Linked DNA regions of Homo sapiens. The protein of the gene in region 1 interacts with the protein of each later gene in a biochemical or structural test. Each region holds a gene or a part of one and is shown on either strand. Other genes may lie near its edges.

The links.
Region 2: the proteins of PEX19 (region 1) and ABCD3 form a complex in vitro, tested with the Homo sapiens proteins (4 studies listed by BioGRID and IntAct, with this or other methods).

What each region holds. Positions count from the first base shown.
Region 1 is NC_000001.11:160,276,272-160,279,338, forward strand, and holds the end of PEX19 (peroxisomal biogenesis factor 19), read right to left. Parts: 3' UTR 536-3,067; downstream 1-535. UniProt on the Homo sapiens protein: Necessary for early peroxisomal biogenesis. Acts both as a cytosolic chaperone and as an import receptor for peroxisomal membrane proteins (PMPs).
Region 2 is NC_000001.11:94,515,661-94,519,201, reverse strand, and holds the end of ABCD3 (ATP-binding cassette sub-family D member 3), read right to left. Parts: intron 2,151-3,541; coding exon 2,073-2,150; 3' UTR 539-2,072; downstream 1-538. UniProt on the Homo sapiens protein: Broad substrate specificity ATP-dependent transporter of the ATP-binding cassette (ABC) family that catalyzes the transport of long-chain fatty acids (LCFA)-CoA, dicarboxylic acids-CoA, long-branched-chain fatty acids-CoA and bile acids from the cytosol to the peroxisome lumen for beta-oxydation.

The DNA.
Region 1 (3,067 bases):
TAAGACAATACTCTTCTTGGTTGCCCATCTATCCTGCTCCTAGGACCACTCACATTCCGTTAGCCATCTCCACTTTGACCTTGCTACCCTTAAGGAAATTTACTCACCTTGCTTCTGAGAGTTAAGTGTTGCCACCTGGCCTCTGCTATGTCAGGATCCTATCATTCCCCCACTGCTACTAGGAAAACAGTTTCTTTTACATCTTGTATCAGCTTCGATCTAGAGAGACAGCCACTTCTAAATTTCTCAAAGATGCTGGTAACCCTTCATCAGTGCCTTTCCCATTGTCTTTATTAAAAAATAATTCCCAGGTCTTTCTGGGGTAGTCAGCTGGTGGGTTTACCAGTGTTATATAACATTCATTCTTGCATACCCATTTCCTCTAAGTCTTTTGGTCCTTTTTTGTATGGTCTGCCGTCTCCACGTCATTCAATATGGGCCAATGTTTTCTCCTAGCTCCCCAAAGCCATCTTAACATCATATTATAACTGCCTCATGGGGCTTTGACAAGACCTTCCAGAGTCACAGGAAAATGTCCCAATTATCAAAAAGTCTGTATTAATTCAATTCTTAATTCATGAAGCCACCCATACAATCACAAATTTATCTAACACATTTAATTTTGGAACAAAGGAGCAACTCCTTTAAAGTTTGAGAGTCGCATAAATATTTCATATACAGCTTAAACCTAAGCTTTGTAACGATTATTTTTGAGCAGCAGAAAAGGAAGGCTAGAGAAATGCTAGAGATGTCCTTACTAGTGACACATTCTTGCTGAAGAACAAGTTCTCTGGAAGTGAAACTCAAATAGGAGAGAACAAGAGATACAGGTAGGTATCAGTTCTGCTAGGGTCTTCAGAGAGACCGAGGGCCCCAAAACAGTGCTACTCAAAGATGATCTGCAGACTTGTGCTGGTCAGTGAACACCTTTTTTTTTTTTTCACCAGTCTGTGACATGGTGAATTAGAAATTGAGAGTGTTTAAAAACTTTTTAGCATTTCAATGTTGCTGTGATATCCAAGTACATGATCAATGGACTTAACCTACAGAACAGTCTGGCCAGTTTGGGTGCTGTCAAACTTGCCGGGTCGGCAGCACACAGTGTGAACTCCATACCTGTCATGGGCAATAGGAATGCATATTGATAAGTGAAGGACTGGAAAACAAAAAACCTGGTCCTTTACCATACATAGTTTGAGAAAGACTGCCCTAGAGTACCATAACTCCACCACAAGTCCTGGAATAATTCCAAAAGTTTTTGGAACAAAGTGTGACCTGAGGTCAACCTGCTCACATTCAATCAAAATCAAAATAAAAATGAGTGCCTTGGGAACAAAGATAAAGTGGACTAGGGCATCTATTTAGATTCCTGGAGTAAGCCCTGGCTAGGCTAGCAGAAGTGAGAATCTGTAAAAGAAAACTGGTAGGACAGAAGGCACAAGGTTCATAGAGAAGGGCTCTTTTGTTCTTCCCTCCTCCTCTCTATCCTTGTCCAGTTTTTGGCTGGAGCTTTAAGGAGAAAATAGTGACACTGAAGCCCCATGACTATATCACAAGTATACCTGTATTTTTTCCATCTCTGGCAGAACAGAGACGTTTTACATTCAGATCTGGGCTCTTCCATGCTCTGGTAAGGTATAGGAGTTGGAATTTCCCAAATAGCCTGAGACCTTGAGAACATTTCCTTCCTCACCAATACCATAAAACATGTAAGGTCTTCAAGGGGTGAAAAGTTTTAACCTCGGGGCAAGTGACATGTCAGAAGCTCAAAGCGACTCATAATGCATGTGAATTTGCTTTGGAGAGACTTATCTTCTGAGTGAACCAGGACAGCCAGCTGAGCTGACCAGAGTACCTACCAACATATGTCAGCCAAGGTCCGTAGACCCACTGGGAGCCACAGAAAAAAAGCCACGTCAGCTTAAAGAAAAATAATTTAGAAAACATAACAATATATTACTAACATTAATAACAATAATGTAAAAGGTTAAAATATAATACCACTTGAAGGGCTTTCTACATTGAAATACTCAAGGGAACATGAGGAAAGATGGCCATCCAGTCTCCTTTGCCAACTGAGGTGCAGACTGAGTTGTGGAAGGTGGGTGTTGATGGAACCCAGCATTACAATATTGTGTAGAACTAGTCTCCTAATATACCTCACTCTGCAACTTACGGAAGCTGAGGAAGATCAGAAAAAGACCACACTCCTCACTCAGAATATTTATTATATTCTGCCCCATGGGGCCTTGCAGGAAAAGGGACCCAAGCTATACCCCTACTCCTTTTCCAAGCTACTTTCCTGAACCAAGGGACAGGATTCTAAGAGAATCATGTATCTCAAATAAGCCAGAATGTATCTGGGGAAGAATAGCCATTAATTTCCTAGACCTGACACTGGGTTTATTTGTGTCTGCCAGGAAGACGGGGAGTCAGTGAGAATCGTAAATGGACTAGATGAGGGGAAATAGGATGGGCCCTTCTTTATCACAGCTTGAGCTCAAAAAGGTTGGGATAAACAGGTGTTTAAAAAAGAGAGGAGGTAAAAGGGAGGATGGGCAGGGGATAGAGGAAGGTCAGGGGCTGGGTTCACCCATATCACACAGCATTGTAGGAAGAAGCAGGGTAACCATTTGAGTTCTCAGCCTGGAACAGGGAGGTGAGGGCTCAGCACCTAGAGAGAGGAGAATCCTAAGGCCTCTCTTTCAACTCTATTGTGATTAGATGCAAAAGCCCTTTCCCTTTAGAGAATTCAGAATGGTCTGTCTGAAGGCAAGAGAGCATAGTGACAGACCTGTAGCCCCAGCCCAGGCTGTTTCTCCCCATTCTCAAAGGCTCTGCCAGGAGAACTATAGAAATACAGAGTCCCAGGTCTCTGCCCCTCCTCCCCAGATCCAAGAGAGGGAGTAGAGACAAGGCACAAAGACCCTGGACGTAAAGGTGAACATCAGTGTGGCCACATATAACATTATTTTGAGAAAGGAAAGAAAGTGCATGCCCCAAAAGGGATGCCTTCCTTCACCTTGCAGGTAGCTGGAACTTTGATAGTGGCAGAAACCACAATGGA
Region 2 (3,541 bases), about 66 Mb from region 1:
TTCTTTGGTTTATTCTTCGGATTAAACTACCATTTCCCACTGCAGTTTCTGGAAGGTGTTAATAGGAATTATGTAGAAAAAGATGTTCCGTGGTCAATCATGTTTTTGAACCAATGGATTTCTTTACTGTGGGTCTTCGAAGAACCACTATTATGTTAATGTGATTCTCCAGAAGGATCTTCCTCTGTGCCTCAAATGGTGAGGCACTGTAATATTTGTTACATAAAAAAGAAAATAATTAAGAAAAAAAGCCCAAATTGTTGTTGTTGTTGTTTTGATGGCAAGAATCATAACAAAAGCAATTATAAGGCAGCTAGGAGAATACTTCTACGAGTAGGTTTAAGGTAACCCAGAAATCTGAAAATCTGAAACTTTCCCATGCCTTAAAATCTTTTCCAAGACGAATAGTATCTTTTAAGGTCTCCTGGCTGTTTGGTAGCATTTGTCAGGTACACAGATTTTACTGAACTTTTCTAAAAGAGAAATTCATTCAATTAAAAACCACACTTGGCAAAACTTTAAAAAAGAGACACTGTGCTAAAAGCATTTTCTGAATTTATTTTTGTGTTTTTCAAGTCAAGATTAAACTATCTATGTTTTCAAGTCAAGGCTGAATTATAAATGAACTTCTCAGTATTTAGATACCAGAATAAAAAGAACAAGCAAAGGTTGTATAGGATATCTGAGTTTTTTTTTTTTTTTTTTAATCTGAACAGAAAATAAGTATACAAGTTCGCTAAACAGAAGTGGTAAAAATTGAATGTTATGTATTATGGAATTCAGTACATCAGTTTACTTCGGTAGCCAGTGATTGTTATAGTTAATTCTGCAAAAAAACAAAACCAGTTATGCAAAAACAAGAGTACAAAATGCCCCTTTCTGAAGCTCAGTTTGAGAAACTGATTTCGTATCTAGCTTATTGATTATACTCAGTTTCAATTCTCCCTGTGCAAATAATACATAAAGTCATTAATGATGATTTGATGAACTGAAATCATCTTCGCTTAGGATCGTTTGACATCATAACCCAAATATAAAAAAGTTATTCAAGATTCACAGAGATAAAACAGTGCCTCGGAAACATAATTCACCCATGTATATATAATAATTTTAGAACATACTTTTTAAACATAAAATCACAGTCAAAGACAGTGATAGCATTGCATACTCAGTGCATTATTTCATGTAGTGCCTTCCTATGGCTCATTTGGAGTTTAATACCAAATAACCACCACACTTCTAATGAATGGGCTTCTAACACACACAAATTTGTCTAATTCTCTTAAAAATCTAGAACTCTTATAAGACCTTGAGCCTGGCATGTTAAGGACTTTGTGTTTTAATATCCCAAACATTGGGAAGATTAGGTGTGATACATGGTAACCCCTCCTTGTAAGCAAGACTGCACATATACTTTAAACAACTCAATACTGCAGACTGAGAGGGGTACATTTATCATTTAGTTAAGGAAAACCAAAATGGCTTTTCCTGGAGTCAAATGCACTCCAAGACACACACAAGGAATGAGTATTACTGTGGCAGCTAAAGAAATCTGCCACTGTATAATAAACGCTGTTATGCAATGATGTTAAACATTTAAATAATACATTATGATTTGTTTCCAACTACCACAGGGCACAGGAAAATGAAACTGAAGACTATCTTGCTAGAACAGGACAAATGATGACCCAGTTTTAAATAGGGTTCTTCACTGAAGGAAAAGATAGAGCCATAAAAGTCCAATTAGCTGACTTCGAATGGTTTACATCCCAGGATGAATCAGGTTACAGTGATTGAAGCCCAATTTAATTTAGGCAGGTTTTTAACCACAAGAATAAGGACATTCTTAGTACATATTATTAATTAAACCAACATATACACAATTAGCAATATCCTATATAATATTAAATGTTTTAACAACTTGTTCTCCATTATTCTGTATCTAGTTAATTTGTTGCTTTGTTTTTTTTTTTAAAAAAAACTAAGCTCAACTTTATTTTACAATGTACTTTGCCTTTCTAAGTATATTCTGTAATTATTTCACTGAAGCAGGTATAGTTCTCCAGATTTCTCTAAGAGCCAAACTCAACTGTATCTTCTGTTATCTGTTTGAATTCATAGTTGCCTCTGCCATCCATATGCAGGTAGTACTATGGGAAAGAAGGGGGAAAAAAAGTCAGTAACTAAGAGTGAATATAGTACTGTCTTTTATGAAAAGTAAAATACAGACTTCCTCATTATTTTAAGGGAGCTAAATCTATAAGCATCCCACAAATCAGAATGCTTCCGTAACTCCATGACCAAGGATCTCAGCTACCAGTAGGTTAAACTGTGCTAAATGCAAGACTGTTCCATAGGTCAGTCAGTATTGTTTCCTGTAGCCTGATTTCCTAATCAGCTTGAAATCTCCAGCTTAAGGCTTTTTATTTGTTTTTAATTTAGTAGAGGGGAAAAAGAGCTATAAAAACTGCCGATATATCCTAACCTCTGAAGACACAACAGCAGTTACAAAGCCTTCTGTTTTTATTTAGTGGCTTATTTTCAGAAAGCTTTCTGAGTTTCCATTTTCTGTATTACTATTTCTTAGCTATCCTGGCCCCTCACATTCTAGTTGTGTTCCCCTCCTTCACATGATCACTGGCGTGATGATTATTTTGCTACTTGTCTATACCTCCAAAAGAAGAGGAAGGGTGAAACCCAAATGCTCTCAATTCCTCTCAATGTCCTATGGCTATAATACTTATGAACTTCCGAGAAAACATAAAGGCTTGGCTATATTTTAAATGCCTTTGATTTCTAGTTATTCAATTTCCTGCTCAGTTCATGAAAAATTGACAAGTTATAATATGCCATAAAATAATAAAAGCTATCTTTAAAAGTCACACAGTTATATAGAATTTCACTGAATTTTATTAAGTACTTTCATATAGGCTACCTGTCTAATTTTCATGGTAATCTAAGAGATAGGAAGGTAAGGCTCAATAACTTCATTATACAAAGGAAGCAACTGAGGCTAGAAACTTTGGTGCCTGAACCCAGGCTCTCTGACTTCAAATCCTATGCTCTTCATTTTATCACTTGTAGACTATCATCTACATCCTAAAGTTCTTGAAGGTAAAAACTGTAATTAATTTGCATCCCTCATGACACTTAGCTCAGTATCTGGCAAAAAAAGGTCCTTAATCAGGTATGTATTTTGTGGAACAAGGCACCTTTACCATTATTCCAATTTTTCTCAAATCCTTGCTTTTACCTAAAATTTCTATATCATTTAGGAAGGAAAAGAAGGAAAGAAGAGAAGAAAGGAAAGAGGGAAGGGGGAAAGACAGAAAGGAAAGAAGAAAAGAAAGGAAGGAAGAAAGGAAGGGAGGGAGGGAGGGAGGAGGAAAGAAAATAAAGAGAATTAAACTGGGTTTACTTTCAGGTTTTGAGCATTTCACATTGAGTTGAAAAGAACTGACATAGTGAGAATGGCACTACTGAAGCACCAGAATAAGTAATACACGTGCACCAATGTAAGCCTCATTTGAATATCTTTGTA